3 separate regions of the Homo sapiens genome follow, and all the other regions are linked to region 2. The links come from fine-mapping of genetic effects on gene expression. A gene starts in region 2. Each other region holds a variant in brackets. All regions are shown on one strand. Distances are between the middles of the regions.

What was found.
Region 1: its variant is fine-mapped to the expression of LRBA in whole blood (TOPMed, PIP above 0.99).
Region 3: its variant is fine-mapped to the expression of LRBA in Th1 cells (Schmiedel 2018, PIP 0.95).

Annotation. Positions count from the first base shown.
Region 1 is chr4:150,262,184-150,267,942 of GRCh38, forward strand. It overlaps LRBA (LPS responsive beige-like anchor protein), which reads right to left. Exons shown (of 57, transcript NM_001364905.1): 57 at 2,252-3,629. The coding sequence ends at 3,539. Among named protein-coding and RNA genes, the nearest start is that of DCLK2, 190 kb to the left of the region's middle. The variant CCAACAAAA/C (reference allele first, on the strand shown) is at 2,728.
Region 2 is chr4:151,012,311-151,018,069 of GRCh38, forward strand. LRBA (LPS responsive beige-like anchor protein) reads right to left here and starts at 2,974. Exons shown (of 57, transcript NM_001364905.1): 1 at 2,892-2,974; 2 at 2,117-2,551. The coding sequence starts at 2,332. RefSeq lists enhancers at 2,404-2,583, 2,764-2,893, 3,245-3,842 and a silencer at 3,394-3,543.
Region 3 is chr4:151,070,441-151,076,199 of GRCh38, forward strand. No RefSeq gene overlaps it. Among named protein-coding and RNA genes, the nearest start is that of RPS3A, 26 kb to the right of the region's middle. The variant AACAC/A (reference allele first, on the strand shown) is at 3,415.

The sequences.
Region 1 (5,759 bases), 750 kb before region 2:
AACGATTTCCTTCCATGTGGTAGGGCAAAAATAGCCAAGTGGAGGCACTAGCACATTTGCTCATGTATAGGTTATGCAGATTTTGAGACTAAAGTTACATCCTGCTTCTGTTTGTGAACATACTTTGGCCTAATGTGATTTCATGTGGGGCTATGGGGCTAATCCATAGTGAACACACACCAGGAACTGGTGAAGTTTCTCCACCTAGCTCAGTGGTGGCTTATTCCAGCTTTTAAATGAAAGACACTTCTGCATCTGGATCCAGGAGGAATCTGTTTATATCATGGGTCAGCTGCCTTTTTTAGCAGGGATGGAGAATGGGGCAGGACTGTCACATTAGAAAGGACTAAACCAGGCCTTTTATTTGCATGGCTGGAAGCTCTTGAGATCACAGCCAGTAACAAGATACCAAAGAAACCTACTGAAAATCTCTACCTCAACCACCTTTCATGGTGAATCTAAGCTGCTGCAAGCTGTTGTATTTGCTAAGAAGGGTACAAAGTAGGTGCAGTGGCTACATCCCAGGTTCCCTGACCATCTCCTGCAAGCTTGACTCACACAACCACTGCCATCTCACTGTCCCTCTGACAGGTGTAGGAGGACATGTGACACCAAGTGTGTGGTTGGCCCCTGACCCTCTGGCTCGGCTGCTCTTAGAGCGAGTGGAAAGGGCGACCCCGGGTTGTCAGTTCCTGACCTCATGCCCTGCTCACGGCTACTCGTAATTCCTGTGCAAGACACTTGGAATCTTCCTGTTGTGTATGCTAAGCAGAAGTGAGGTGTGATGTTTCTCAATGGATAAAATAGCTCTTTTATTGAAGTAATTTATGAAAACACTGATTTTTGGTGTACTTTGGGAGTAAGACACTGTCATCTGAGAGTGTGTTGTCTACACGTTTCTATCGATGTTTTTCGGATGTTCATGTTGTCTCTTAGCTCTCCTGCTTTCTCCCACAGATCTAATGGTATTTCTTAAATGACAGCATCTCAGGGACTTGATTGGTTATATTTCAGTAAGAAACAGTATGTCAGGGAGGAAAATCTTAATTTCTGGAGGCAATGCATCTTAAACCAGCCCTCAGTTACTGTACATGGACCAAGCACAGCCCATCCAGCCGCATCTACTCACTGTGCAGACGCACTGCTCCCTCTGTTGTGGTTCCCTTATTTCCAGCCCCAAAACACCTCTACTTTCACTTAGCTGGCTTTTTCTTAGCTGGCTTACATTTATGTAAAGTAATAGCCTTTTTAAGGAGTTAGTTAAAATTGAATAAGTAAATATTGAATAAACTGTAAATGTTATTACTGAACAGATTCTGTCATTAAGAAGCCCATGTGTTGATGCCAGCCTTATTTGTTTCATGAAGTATTGTTTCTTTTAATATTTATTTTTTAAATTTTAATTATTATTATTATTATTTTTTGAGATGCAGTCTCACTCTGTCGCCTAGGCTGGAGTGCAGTGGCACAATCTGAGTTCACTGCAACCTCCGCCTCCCAGGCTCAAGCAATTCTCCTGCCTCTGCCTCCTGAGTAGCTGGGATTAACAGGCGCCTACCACCAAGCCTGGCTACTTTTTGTATTTTTAGTAGGGACAGGGTTTCCCCATGTTAGCCAGGCTTGTCTCGAACTCCTGACCTCAAGTGATCCGCCTGCCTCGGCCTCCTAAAGTGCTGGGATTACAGGCGTGAGCCAATGCACCCGGCCAACTTATGTTTCAATTAATTTTCGTTAGTCGTAAGTTTTTAAAACAATAAAGGTAGTGGAGATACTGATTTTTTTTTCCTTTTAGGTTTCAAGAGGAGCTTTGCTTTAGGCTTGTTAAGCATAGGGTGGTTGAAGTATCATTTGTGTGGCACGACTTAGGTATTGGTATTTTCTTTTACCATTGTTCACTTAAGAAGTTTTCAAAGAGTAATATTCACAAGTTAATGAGGACATTAACAAACAAACAGTGAAGATGTTCATCAGTTAATTAATTTATCAGCAACTTGGGTATTTCTTTGATTCTAAAATGTACTTTCCCTCCCCCACATTTCACCGTCGTCTATTTATTTTCTTAATGATGGATCTCAGATGAAGTGGTACATAAAGTTCCTTGCTAGGCATTTGTAAGATTCAGGTCTAGGTCATTTGTGTGAGTCTCAGTAAGAAAGAGGAGAGATCTGGCCAAAGAAAGCTCATTTTCCTGTTTTCAGTCAGGAGGATCTCTCACATTGGTTATTGATCAAAAACTAGGACTGAATCAGAGTTTGACATTTTCTTTCTTTGTGAATCATTATTTTATTAATGATGTTTAAAATTTAGGAGCAAAAAAGGCATTTCCAACAATTCAATTACAGATGCCATTTTATTCAGCTTTTTCTGTCAAACTGAATTGTTCATTCCAAATCCTTGCTTTTAGAGAAGAGCTGAGTGTGTAGGAAAAAAAGAGGGACCACTTGAAGTCTGTTGCAAGAGAAATAGAGATCAAAGTTCACAACATACAAAGAATTTATTTATGCAATACAGGCCTTTTCTCAAATATTTTTCACAGAATTCCACACAGTAATCTACTAGAAAAGTAGAATTATACACCACCAAATAACATTGTTTCGTTTCTTAGTACAAATTGCTAATCAAAAGGAAGGTGGAGATGATAGTTTAATAACAAATAGTAAAACAGGTGTTGCTGAATACAGCACCCGGTAGCCTCTATTTGCAAACCCGGGGAGGGAAGGGGGTGCC[CCAACAAAA/C]CAACAGTGGCTCCGCCTCATTGTCCAGGCACAGGCAAACCGCAGTAGTGAGCTTTGGTACTTGCATTTACTTTAAAAGAAAAACAAATGTTGTGAGCTCAAGAGCATTTCCATCATTTCGTTTTGTTGTGCTATGAAGATGACAGATCAGGAAAAAATGGTAACTATTTCACACTTGCTATAAATTAGATTCCTTGTGCTAACCACACAATAAAATAGCCTCCCCCAAACCATACTTTTCTAGGTCTAAAACATGCTTGAAGAACAATATTGATAGACAGACTTAATTGAGATGTTTTAAATTACATTTACCATAATTTAAACATTACTATTTAAATCCCAGAAATATTAGTGCTGAAGAAGCACAGTTGTTTGGAAAAATACAGGACCCAAATTACAGCATCAAATTTTCCTATTCCAATATTGTAACCCACTTCCCCACTGTGAAAATCCTATTTCTCAAGCTTGTAGATGCATGGGAAATGTTCTTCATAATATTATAGCTGGAATAAGTGGTTTACTTGCTCCACTGTATGTTTCCATAATTGGTGAAAATAGACTTCTCATTATGACTAAAAATATAGATTTTTTAAAACTACAGAACCCAGCAGCCAGTTTTCTGCTTTGCTAATCCCCCCCAAAAAAGTCAAGCAAAGACTACAAAAATAGCAATTATTAATAACTTTAAAAAATATTTTGCTTCTTTGAGCAAATTTAAGTTACATTCAGATGTGGTAGAAGAGAATGATGCTCCAGGTACTTCTGCTCATCCTAGGGGCAGAGTTGATGTACAGCTGTCACCATCAGTAGCGGGTTTGGTATTCATGATGCCACCGGTTAAAGTCGTTGTAAAATAGCACAATGCTTCCTGAAGCCATGCCAGAAATGATGCACCTAGGAGAAGCACAGAGAGAAGGACTTTTACAAACCTGTGTGTCCTAGAGATGTTACTAAAAACTGCTCTCCCCAAATCCACAAGGTAAATATAGAAGCTGGCAGTGAAGGCTCCAATTTGTGGGAACTAAGGTATGTATTTCATGACTAAAATGTATCCCTGAGTAAGCTCAGAGTACTGCCTCTGACACTCCACAAGGATCCAAGCCACAGCTTGCTTTTTCATTGAAAGGGTACGGACAGCTGGTATGTGCAGGATGAGTAACTAAAATCTGAACAGATTTGTAACTAAAATCTGAACAGATTTGGTAATTTCTAAAGGGGGACTGGGCTGGCAAGACCCATCCATTATATAAGCAACAGACTCAAAAGAAGGAACCACAATCTCAAAGTAACTGCTGGTGGAAAGAAGCAGCACACACTCAAGTGACAAGAGACACCACCTCTGACAGGTACAGAATCAATGAAGAGTGAAAAAGAAGAGTGTTGTTGACCATAATTTAAGCTGGTCTCCCCTCTGTGGAGAAGTAGTCTATGTCCATCATGCTCTGGGTGAGGACCTAGTCCTCGTAACACAGTAACTCACCGAAATCACTGAAGATAAGAACTTCTGCAAGCTTCTTGGTCTCCTGTCCCCAAAGAGGTGGTGCAGGGAAAGAGATGGAGAACATAGGTGAACCTAAACTGAGCATAGCCAGATTTTTCTCTGTGTAGTTTGGTTAGGACCAGCCCTTAGAAGCCATATTCAGTATCCTTCCTAGTACCTCGTATCAAAATTAATTAGGAACTAAAATGTGTCACTACAAAAAAAATCAACTAAAAACAAAGGAAGACAGTAAGGAGGAAATGAGAGACAAAACTCTAAGGCAGAGAGAAAATTAAATAGAAAAGTGGCAAAAGTCAGTCTTTCCTTATCAGTCATTAAAGAGATTAAATTCTCCAGCCAAAAGGAAGAGATTGGCAGAATGGATAAAAAACATGATCCAACTATATGCTGTCTACAGGAGACCCACTTGAGATCTAAAGACAAACATCTTGAAAGTGAAAGGATGGAAAAGATATTCCGTGTAAGTACTAGCAAAGAGAGCTGAGGTGGCTTACACTAATATCAGACAAAATAGTCTTTCAGTCAAAAACTGTTACAAGAGACAAAGGACACTACACTGAGAAAAGGGTAAATTCACAGAAATATAACAATTATATATGCATTTATCATCAGACCCCCAAGATACAAAGAGCAAATATTAACAGAATTGAAGGGAGAAATGGTTCTACAGTAATAGTTTTAGACGTCAATACCCCACTTTCAATAATGGGTGGAACAACCAGGTGGAAGATAAGGAAACAGGACACTTGAACAATACGATAAGCCAACTGGACCTGACACACGTATATAGAACACCTTCCCAACAACAATAGAATATACATTTTTTTGCAGTGCGCATGGAATAGTCTCCAAGATAAACCATATGTTAGGCCACAAGTGTTAATGACTTAGTAAAGATTAAAATCACAAAGTAGCTTTTCTGATCATAATAGAATGAAACTAGGTACCAATAACTGAAGGTAAACTAGAAAATTCACAAATATGTGGAAAGTAAATAAATGATGAGTCAAAAAAAACAAACAACAACATAAGAGACATCAGAAAATACTGAGACAAATGAAAAGGAAATACAACAAGCCAAAACTTATGAAATGCAGCAAAAGCAATGCTAAAATGGAAATTTTTAGCTGTAAACACATAGATTTAAAAATATCTCAAATCAATAACCTAACTTTACCTCTTAAGGAACTAGAAAACAGACAAAACCCCAGGCTAGGCAGAAGGAAGAAAATAATAAAGAACAGAGTAGAGAGAAATAAAGCAGAAAATAGTAAAATGATTGATAGGAAAAAACCCAAAAATTGGTTCTTTGAAAAAATAACAAAATTGACAAACCTCTAGCTAGACTAAGATGACTTGGCTGGGCATGGTGGATCATGCCTGTAATCCCAGCACTTTGGGAGGCCAAGGTGGGTGGATCACCTGGGGTCAGGAGTTCGAGACCAGCCTGGCCAACCCGGGGAAACCTCGTCTCTACTAAAAATACAAAAATTAACTGGGCGTGGTAGTGGGCACCTGTAATC
Region 2 (5,759 bases):
CTCACGTTTGGTCATCCACTCCAACACAGCACATTCTAAAGAACAGGAGTTCAAATCCTCCTTCTGCCAAAAGATGTTGTGTCTTCACACACAAATAAGTAATTATGGATTATATTACTACCACAAATTTCTGTTTCTCACTGAAGGCATATGACATTTTAAAAAAGAACAAAAAATCAGAAAGGAAATGTTTCAAGTCTATTTTGAGGTAAAGCAATCAATTTACCATTTATCTTCCTCAGACTTACATATGAAAGCCCCACACACATGCGCACACACAAGATCCCCAAAATGTTGACAACTGTTGAAGCTGCACAACGGATACCAGAGTTCATTATACTATTCTATTTTTGCATATATTTGAACATTTCCATAATATGCAGTTTTTTAAAATATGCATGTGTGTGTCTATAGGTGTTTATACATAAACTCCCAATAAACTGACATAGAAATATCCAATTGTTCAAAGCTTTCATTCTTCAAAAGTAAGTGAATTTCTTTTTTTTTTTTTTTTTTTTGAAACAGTCTCTCACTCTGCCACCCAGGCTGGAGTGCATTGGCACGATCTCGGCTCACAGCAACCTCCACCTCCTGGGTACAAGCAAGCGCATCCAGCTAATTTTTTTGTATTTTTAGTAGAGATGGGGTTTCACCATGTTGACTAGGCCAGTCTCAAACTCCTAACCTCAAGTGATGTGCCCGCCTCGGCTTCCTGAGGTGCTGGGATTACAGGCGTGAGTCACCACGCCCGGCCAGAATTCCATCTAGCTACTTTCTTATTCTAGAAGTTGTACTGCAGGTGACCAGACCATTAGAGAAGGTCTAGTGAAAGAAATAATTAACTGCCCCAGAATAAAACAAGCCTAACCTTGAAAAGAGGCAAAGGGAAAGGTGCTAAACAGTTATTACAATTAACTGCATGTTTATATTTGGTCCTGTTATCCTCTAACACAGGTGGGTAGGTAGAAAAGGGGGAAGTATTTTAGGGCCAGATTTCCTTTTGATTCTTTAAGTTGATGGGCAAGAGAGGCTGGAATAAAGAAATCTAAAAAGTCTCCATTATAAATGATAACCAAGCCAGGCACAATGGCGCATGCCAGTAGTTCCAGCTACTTAGGAGACAAGAGGGGAGAATCGCCTGAACCCAGGAATTCAAAACTAGCCTAGGCAACAGAGTGAGACCTCATCTCTAAATAAATAAGTTAATGAATTAATTAAAGGTAGAATTGTATAATATATGAATTATACCTCAATTTAAAAACAATTTAAGCCCTATACAGTGATGCATGCCTATAGCCACAACTACTCATAAGACTGAAGCAGGAGGATAGCTTGAACTTAGGAGTTTGAGAACAGCCTGGGCAACATAGAGAGGCCTCATCCCCCTCCCACCCCCACCCGAAAAAAAGCATTCATAGCTCATCTTAGTATAATCAGCAACTTCCAATGACTAACTATGCTTTCCTGCTAGACATGAATTTATAAAACACATAAAAATTATACTGTATCTGCTTCAATTCCTTTTTTCATATTGCCATTCAATTTTCACAAGATTACTTTAAATGCAATCCTAAATTCATCACCAATTTAACTTTTGTTAGTTATGTCTAAAAATAAAACTAGTCAAAATTAAAAATACTAACTTTGCAGCAAATTAATCTTGCATCAGCACTACAAACAAATTTTTAAACTTATTGTAGCAAAACATAACTTCGACAGAATCAAAGACATTAATTCTCAAGTCCAAAAAAAGGTCACAAGAAATTATTTAAAGTGGTAAAGGGAAACGCAGACTTAGGCATACAAGCCAAGAAAAAAAAAATTAGAGATAACTCCTCCGCTAGAACCTCCCCCCAATACTTCCATAGCAACAATTATTTCCTTAGCACAAAAGTGATGTGTTCACTTTCACAAAACCTGGATCATCTAAGTTTGCACAATTCCCTTCAATCTAAAAAACAGATGAAATTGTTTCATTTAGGTGAGTAGAATTTTGTGTCCCTATACACGAAAAAAGTCACCATCAGTGTGAGTAAACCACATGGCTCCAGCTTTAAGATCTTGTTCCCCAACCCACTGAAAAGAGTATATGCTTATAAAATATTCATGGACTTACCAGGTTAAAGACAGTTTCTACAATATCCCTATTGGATACTTCTCCAACTTCAACCAAACCGGTCAACACGGCAAATTTCATTCTGATGCCCCTGATGGGGAGCCCTGGTTTCAGAGACAATGCACCCCCTTCAGTAGGGGTTTCTTCTCTCCCTCCACCTCCCCCGTCATCACCTGTTGGTGGCGGGGAAGGGACACGATTGTCTTCGCTAGCCATTGCTAGCTCACGATAAAGGACAACTCAGAGTCACCCTGGGACGGCAGTCGCTGCACTGGTAATGAGCACAACACACGCAATGCAAAACGAAAGGGTCCCTCTTCCAACTTGTGGAGATACCCCAAAGCAGTTGATGTGGAAAGTCCTTGGCGTCGCCCTCCTCCTCTTGGAGAATATTTGTCCAATCTCTCTCCCCGAGGCTGACAACAACGCCAAACCCTATTGGAAGATTAAATATATGTTAAATAGGCTAGGTTTTGTTTTAGGGTTTTGAGGGGACAAGAGGGAAATAGTTATTGTCGGTCAAGTAAGTTACTAAAGGCACCCCACTACTAGCCACCCGCTTCTCCCGGGCTCAAAAAGCTGGGTTCTGGGTGAAGGCAGGTCCAAGAGGCCCCCGAACAGGCTCACTCCTCCCCCACTCTCGTGCAGGTTCTAGGCGCAGGGTAACCTCTCCTCACAGGTGCACTAGAAAGAGAAACTGTCGCGGGGAAAGGAGGGATCGGAGGAAAGAAGGGGGGCCCACAAGCTATCACAGAGGTAGAAAGTTCTTCCTCACCCAGATACTCCGGACTCGTCCTCACCCCCCGCCCAGGAGCAGCGAGACCGAGGTGGCGGCGGAGATCCAGGGCAGGAAAAGGCGGGGGAAGGGGGCGGTGATTATTCTAAATGCTCGGCCCAGTGGGAGGAGTGAAGCACCTCTCTCAGGCACCTGAGATTCGACGGGAAGGGGTGGGGAGGTGTGTGTGGTGGCAGGAAGGGAGGGGAGCGGCCAGAGAAACCCAGCGGCCACCGCAGGGAGAGAAGGGAGGACAGAGAGGTCAGTGCACCTGGTCGCAGCCTCCAAGTTTCCCTAGTCCGCTCCCCGGGAGTCCGCGGCTGCACAGAACTCCATGGCTTCCTGGCCCGCCCCGCCCCTGCGCTCAGCCTTTGCAAAAGCAGCCGCTGCTGGCGCTACGGGCGCCGCGGCTGAGGCTGCTGCGAGTGGTGAGGATGCTACTGCCACAGCTCGCCCCGCCACGGGTCGCGCGGCTGTCGTGTGCCCACTGAAGCTGCTCCCGGCCGCCATGACAGCGCCGAGTGCTGCCGGGCGCGGCGTGCGCGTGCGCGAGCGCGAGTGCGCGGGGCGGGAGGGCGCGAAGGCGGAGGCAGCCGCGCGGCGGGGGCGCGGTGACGACGCGCGGACAGCCAAGGGGGCCCCGAGCCAGCCGGAGTGCTGGGCTGGGGCTTCCGGCTGCACTAGGCGCGCTGCTCTGGTAGCACCAGGTGTGTACCCGGCCCGGCGAGGAGAGACCCTTCCGTCCGAGGGCCTACACTTTCCCCTCTCCCACTCTCGGACCTCGGGAGGTGCTTCTGCCAAGTCCTGAGGCGGGGATTTTGGCGCTCCTGCTGTTGTTAAGTTACCGTAGGGTCTCTTGGCGCGGAGGGAACACGCGCTGCGTTGCCTAGGTGTCTCATTGGACTTGGAGAAGAACACCTGAGGCACCTCTACGAGCCAGAGAGGTGACGGCGCTGGAGCCAGTGAGGCTGCTGTCCCTGCCCAATGGGAGCGAGGAGTCCCCACCCCTGGCTGCTTTCAGCTGTTGCCCGCCCGCCGCTCTCGGCGGAGACTTGGAGATTTCCACTGGGATACCTCGGCAGCTGCCGCCATTCGGGAGGGGAGGGGAGGGGACCGAGTCGACGAGGAATGGGAAAGATTCCTTGCTTTGCAGCTGCCGCGCCACGAAACCTCTCCCACATTCATTCTAGGCAGAGGATTCCTGAGACAGCTGCTATAAACAGCGTGGAGACAGGGTTCCTTGTGCCTGTAGACCTCCGAAGGGTTTTTTCCTCTCGTGATTTTCCAATGTGAAGATTAGGCTCGCGTCATTCTCAGAGTAGATCAAAAGATAAATTATATTAGGTAGTACAGATAGGTCCTCATACTCAGTGTCCCTTCTTTCCACCCGCTATTAACAGTAAACCATTCTTCCTAGTGAGTGAAAAATAAATTTAGAGGAAGGTGGTTTTTCACCCACGTGTATCCTTTGAGGTCAAAGGGCCTTTTTAAAAATACGCCTAGCTCCTAAAATGAAAGTGAAGCAAAAAGTGGGATTAAACAAAGGAAGAATTCTAGAGAACTTAGGAAAAAATTATAGTGGTTTGAGAAATAGTTTCCTGAAGAAAAAGTTATTTGAGATGGCCTTGAGAAGTGGACAGAAGCCGGGCGCGGTGGCTCACGCCTGTAATCCCAGCACTTTGGGAGGCCCAAGCAGATGGATTGCCTGAGGTCAGGAGTTCAAGACCAGCCTGACCAATATGGTGAAACCCCCGTCTCTACTAAAAATACAAAAATTAGCCAGGCATGGTGGTAGGCGCCTGTAATCCCAGCTACTCGGGAGGCTGAGGCAGGAGAATTGCCACTGCACTCCAGCCTGGGTGACAGAGGAAGAGCGAGATTCTGTCTCAAAAAAAAAAAAAAAAAAAGACAATTTTAACTCTCACATGGAAATTTGGGAAGAAAAAGGTAACAGACGCAAAAAGCAAGGGAGGGCTGGGTGTAGTAGCTCACACCTGTCATCCCAACACTTTAGGAGGCTAGTGCAGGAGGATCACTTGAGACTAGCCTAGGCAACAGCAAGACCCGTGCTCTTTTTTTTTTTTTTTTTTTAAACGGAGTTTCGCTCTTGTTGCCCAGGCTGGAGTGCAATGGCGCAATCTCGGCTCACCTTAACCTCTGCCTCCCGGGCTCCAGCGATTCTCCTGCCTCAGCCTCCCAAGTAGCTGGGATTACAGGCATGCGCTAATTTTTTTTATTTTTATTACAAGCCCGCCTAATTTTTGTATTTTTGGTAGAGGTGGGGTTTCACCATGTTGGCCAGGCTGGTCTCAAACTCCTGACCTTAGGTGATCTGCCCGTCTCAGCCTCCCGAAGTGCTGAGATTACAGGTGTGAGCCACCGTACCCGACCAAGGTCTCTATTTTTTTAAAAAAGAAGCAGAAGAACAAGCAAGGGGATATTTTCTTTAGAAAAGTGTTACACGTTTTAAAAATACTAAAATGAATTCAACTGCACCAAATCTCATGTGGTTGCAAATGTTTGTTAAAGATTTGTTTTCTGTAAGTAGACTTAGATATTCCAGAGATGAAGCAGACATCTTTCTGATGATCCGAATTGCCAACACATTTCCAAAGTAAAAGGCGACATCAGTGGCTTCCCATTTCTGAAATCTCTGAAAAACTAAACACCTCAAGTTTGTTTCACATCATTAATGAATAACTCTGGAATAAGGGGGAGTAGGGTGTGCCTGCAGAAGAGACACAACTTTCACTTGACCTTTCACACATCCGTATTTCTAAAGTGAGGCATTAATCCTAAAAGGCCTCTCATCGGAGTTTGTCTCCTCAGATGGGGCAAATGGTGTGTTAATATATCTGTCATATAAGT
Region 3 (5,759 bases), 58 kb after region 2:
CTCTAACTATAGTGGAAAATACAGGATGAGTTGAAGAAAGCATTTTACCGGAATCTAGGGAAAATCAGTGTTACCAAGTGGTACTAACGTTCAGCAGATCAGTTCGAATGGTTTGGTTGTAAATAATAAAACCCACTCACACTATGAATAATAATCAAATGAGGAAATTTACTATGTCATACAACAAGGAAGCTCAGAGATAGGACAGGGTTGATTGATGCAGTTGTATTACAATGTCATGAAGGATCCAGGGTTCATCCATCCCTTTACCCTATCCCATTCTTGGTAACAGCTTTATCCTCAGGCAGTAGCAAGATAACTGCAGAAATTCTTTTAACTCAGCCATGCCAATATGCAGAGGAAGAAGAGCACTCTTAGGAGTGAGAAAGAATTTCTTCTTTTTTCTTTTTTTTTTTTTTTTTGAGACAGAGTTTTCTTCTTGTTGCCCAGGCTGGAGTGCAATGGCACAATCTTGGCTCACCGTAACCTCCATCTCCTGGGTTCAAGCAATTCTCCTGCCTCAGCCTCCCAAGTAGCTGGAATTACAGGCATGTGCCACCATGCCCGGCTAATTTTGTATTTTTAGTAGAGACGGGGTTTCTCCATGTTGGTCAGGCTGGTCTCAAACTCCTGACCTCAAGTGATCCACCCACCTCGGCTTCCTATAGTGCTGGGATTACAGGTGTGAGCCACTGCACCCGACCACAAGAAAGTATTTCTAAGAACCCTGCACAGTTGGCCACACTCCTACTCTAAAACGAATTACTGCCAAGGAGATGGTAGAATAACCAGAATTGGATTAGACTAGTTATCTGAGGTGGAATAAATGACAGGGAGTCAACTACTTATACTCAATAAAATCGGCCAGGTGTGATGGCTCATGCCTGTAATCCCAGCACTTTGGGAGGCTGAGGTGGGTGCATCACTTGAGGTCAGGAGTTCAGACCATACTGACCAATATGGTGAAACCCTGTCTCTACTAAAAATACAAAAATTAGCCAGGCATGGTGGCACATGCCTGTAATCCCAGCTACTCGGGAGGCTGAGGCAGGAGAACTGCATGAACCCAGGAGATGGAGGTTGCAGTGAGCCAAGATCACGCCACTGCACTCCAACCTGGGTGACAAAGCAAGACTCCATCTCAAAAAAAAAAAAAAAAATTGAATTTTACTTCTGTTGGGGTTTCCTTAAATTTCCCTTAAATTGTCTGTAACTTATTAATTACTGACTGATATTACTAGAGATGTCAGTTAATATTCTTTGCTCATCTGTCTTGGTAAAGAACTCTACTCTTGGCCAGGCATGGTGGCTCACGCCTACAATCCCACACTTTGGGAGGCCAAAGCGGAAGGATCAAGTGAGCCCAGGAGTTTGAGACCGGCCTAGGCAACATGATGAGACTCCTCCTCTACCAAAAAAAGAAAAATAAAATTAGCTGAGCATGGTGGCATGTAGTCCAAGCTGCTCAGGAGGCTGAGGTAGGAGGAATCACTTGAGCCCAAGAAGTCAAGGTTGCAGTGAGATGTGTTCCCTCCACTGCACTCCAGTCTGGGCAACAGAGTGAGACCTGTCTCTAACTCTATTTTTTTCCTCTCCAAGCTCTGAAGTCCTAAGATGCTACTGTCTATAACCTAGAAGGAAATGGATTTCTGAGTCCTTGGCTTGTAAACCAAATTTATAAAGTGATAAAAACTATCTGGGAGATAAATGAATGAACATGAACTATGGCATACACAGAAGAAAGTCACATGTAATTTGGTATGATTAAGATTCAGAATTAATTATTTAATTATTTAAATACTTACTTGTACTCAAGGGGCAGAGGGTGTCAGAGGGGGCATTGTGACAAAGTTAAATTTGTAAAAAAAATTTACACTGTTAAATTTGCAAAGTTAATCTTTTAAAGTTGTAGTTAAATTATGACATTTGAATTTATAATAAAGACTACAAACAGGACCAGCCCAGCATGGTGGCTCACACCTATAGTCCCAGCACTTTGGGAGGCTGAGGAGGGTAGATCACCTGAGGTCAGGAGTTCGAGACCAGCCTACCAACAGGGTGAAACCCTGTCTCTACTAAAAATACAAAAGTTAGCCAGGCGTGGTGGCAAGTGCCTGTAATCCCAGCTACTCGGGAGGCTGAGGCAGGAGAATCTATTGAACCTGGGAGGCGGATGTTGCAGTGAGCCAAGATCGCACCATTGCACTCCAGCCTGGGCGATAGAGTGAGACTCCATCTCAAAAAAAAAATATGTATATATAATAATAAAAAGACTACAGAACCAAGAAATTAAGGGGTGATGAGTAGTCGTTCATTGAGAGATTACAAATGGTATCTTTCGGATGAAGTCACAGTGTACATCCATTGGCATGCCTACCTATCACTCTGGAAGGAAGTCAAGAGGTTAAAGACGTTTGAGTCCCACAAGAGATCACTATTTCCAGGCACCTAAACTCACTAGCGGATTTGTGTCTTTACTTGGGCAGGCCAAGCCAAAGGCCATGCTAAAGTGTTGACAGAGCTATGAACTATTAAACGGTGCAAAATTCCTGAATGAAAGCACCAAAAATAATTGTGTAAGGGAGTTTATTTTTTCACAAACTCTGAGTACAAATTCTAAAGTGAAAGAAACAATAAAATATAAGGACCCACCGGGCACGGTGACTTGCACCTGTAATCCCAGCCCTTTAGGAGGCCAAGGCAGGCTGATTGTCTGAGGTCAGGAGTTCAAGATCAGCCAGGCTAACATGGTGAAACCCCGTCTCTACTAAAAATACAAAAATTAGCCAGGTGTGGTGGCGCACGCCTATAGTCCCAGCTACTCAGGAGACTGAGGCAGGAGAATTGCTTGAACCTGGGAGGTGGAGATTGCAGTGAGCCAAGGTCACGCCACTGCATTCTAGTCTGGGTGACAGAGCAAGACTGTGTCTCTGAAAAAATAAAATAAAATGAAATATAAAGACCTGGCCAGGCGTGGTGGCTCATGCCTGTAATCTCAACACTTTGGGAGGCCGAGGTGGGCAGATCACCTGAGGTCAGAAGTTTGAGACCAGCCTGACCAACATGGAGAAATCCCGTCTCTACTAAAAATACAAAATTAGCTGGGTGTGGTGGCATGCACCTGTAGTCCCAGCTACTTGGGAAGCTGAGGCAGGAGAATCGCTTGAACCCAGGAGGCAGACGTTGCAGTGAGCCAAGATAGCACCATTGCACTCCAGCCTGGGCAACAAGAGCAAAACTCTATCTCAATAAATAAATAAATAAATAAATAAATAAAATATGAGGACCCAATTTTTTTCCCTTGATAAGTGTGACTTTAGCTAATTGATTTCATTCGATATATACCTGTAGCAATGGTTTCCAAACCTCTCTGATCATAAACCACAATAAGAAATACATTTTACATGGTGACTT[AACAC/A]ACACACACACACACACACACACACACACACGCACACAGGCACACACACACAGAGTTATGTTTTTAAAAACTGAAACAGAAGCTAACAAAACGACAATTGCACTTTCCAAGGATGCAATAGTTTTCAATTTTATTTGATTTAAAAACAAGTGCTAGCTGAGTGATGCGTGCTTGTAGTATGAGCTACTTGGGAGGCTAAGATGGGAGGATCACTTGAGGCCAGAAGCTCGAGGCCACAGTGTACGATAAGCTATAATGGTACTTGTGAATAGCTACTACAATTCAGCCTGGCAAGACTCTGTCTCAAAAACAAACAAACAAAAAATAAGTACTGATTCACATCCACTAACTTGATTTCATGACCCACTAATAGGTCTGACTTGCAATTTGAAAAACATTATTCTAGGTTAAATGGAGCCTGCCAAATGCCTGGCTCCATTAATACAAATCCTGCTCTTCCATAGCAGGAAGAGGAGGGAAGGAGATTGTCTATATGGGCAATCGTGAGAAGTGACTGAGCTGCTTAACCCCTATCTTTGGTGTCCTGTGTTTTACTTTTAAACTTTAAGGTAGGTTCAGATTATCACAAAGAAGACCATGATAAGTTCAGATGGCTTAGAGGTATGATTAGAGCAGCATAAACACCATACTTCTCAATTCCAACTTTCTTTTCTATTTTCTTCTTAAGAGCACACAAGCTTTGGAGTCAGGAGCAAAGTTCAACTCCCCTTAAGCTTAAGAGCAAGTTTCTTAATTGTTCTGAACCTCAGCTTACTCATCTGTAAGATGGACAGAAGCAATACTTTACAGGGTTGTAAAAATGATTGTGAGCTATATATACATAGTACATATAATTCACTTAGCAAATGATCAATAAATGACAGCTGCTGTTTATCTTAGGTCAGATGAATACATGCTAAGAAAGCAAACATTGTAAATGCCTTCCTTAACAAAAAAATGTTTTAAGGCTGGCCATGGTGGCTCACACCTGTAATACTAGCACTTTGGGAGGCTGAGGCAGGTGGATCACTTGAGCCCAGGAGTTCAAGGCAAGCCTGGGCACCATAATGAGACTCCTGTCTCTACAAGAAATACAAAAATTATCTGGGTGTGGTGGTGCACACCTGTAGTCCCAGCTGCTTGGAAGGCTGAGATGGGAGGATCACTTGAGCCCAGGGAGGTTAAGGCTGCAGTGGGCCCTGATTGTGCCACTGCACTCCAGCCTGTCTCAAACCAAAAAAAAAAAAAACAAAACAGTTTTAGACTACCCAATATTTCCTGGTCTGATATCTTTTTTTTTTGGAAACAGGGTCTGGTTCTTTTTCCCAGGCTGGAGTGCAGTGGCGTGATCATAGCTCATTGCAGCCTCTTAGACTAAAGTGATCTTCCTGCCTCAGCCTCCTGAGTAGTTGGGACTATAGGCATGGGCCACCACATCCAGCTAATTCAAAAAAAATTTTTTGGCCAGGCGCAGTGGCTCACGCCTGTAATCCCAGCACTTTGGGAGGCTGAGACGGGCGGAACAAGAGGTCAGGAGATCGAAACCATCCTGGCTAACACGGTGAAACCCCGTCTCTACTAAAAATACAAAAAATTAGCCGGGCCTGTTGGTGGGCGCCTGTAGTCCCAGCTACTCGGGAGGCTGAGGCAGGAGAATGGTGTGAACCCGGGAGGCGGAGCTTGCAGTGAGCCGAGATCGTGCCACTGCACTCCAGCATGGGCGACAGAGCAAGACTCTGTCTCAAAAAAAAAAAATTTTTTTTATAGAGACTTGGTGTCCCTATGCTGCCCTGCCTGGTCTCGAATTCATGGGCTCAAGCAATCCTCCTACCTCAGGCTGCCAAATGCCAAAGTGTTGAGATTTGAAGTGTAAGCCACTGCACTCAGTCTGGTCTGGTATCTCCCTTTGGGGAAGCTCTAGATATACCTGTATCCGGAAGGACAGTGCTACAGATTTTTTTTTTAAATAGAGATGGGATCTCACTATGTTGCCCAGGCTGGTTTCAAACTCCTGAGGTCAAGTGATCCTCCCTTCTCAGCCATCCAAAATTCTGGGATTACAGTCATGAGCCACTATGCCCAGCACTGCTACAGATCTTGTGGTCGGCCAACTCCAGTTACAATGAAAACCTGATTATAGGAGAAATGGGCATCAATGAAGACAAAAGGGCAAACTCCAGTCCATCTCCCACCAATCAAGCCTGTGATGCCAGTTGGTTTTCCTAAAGCACAGTTTGGAATCTGTCACTTCACTTCTCAATAAACTAGGAAGACTCCTCATAGCCTACAAAGGAAATCTGAACTGTATATTTTGGTATTTGATGTACCATATGCAGTAAAA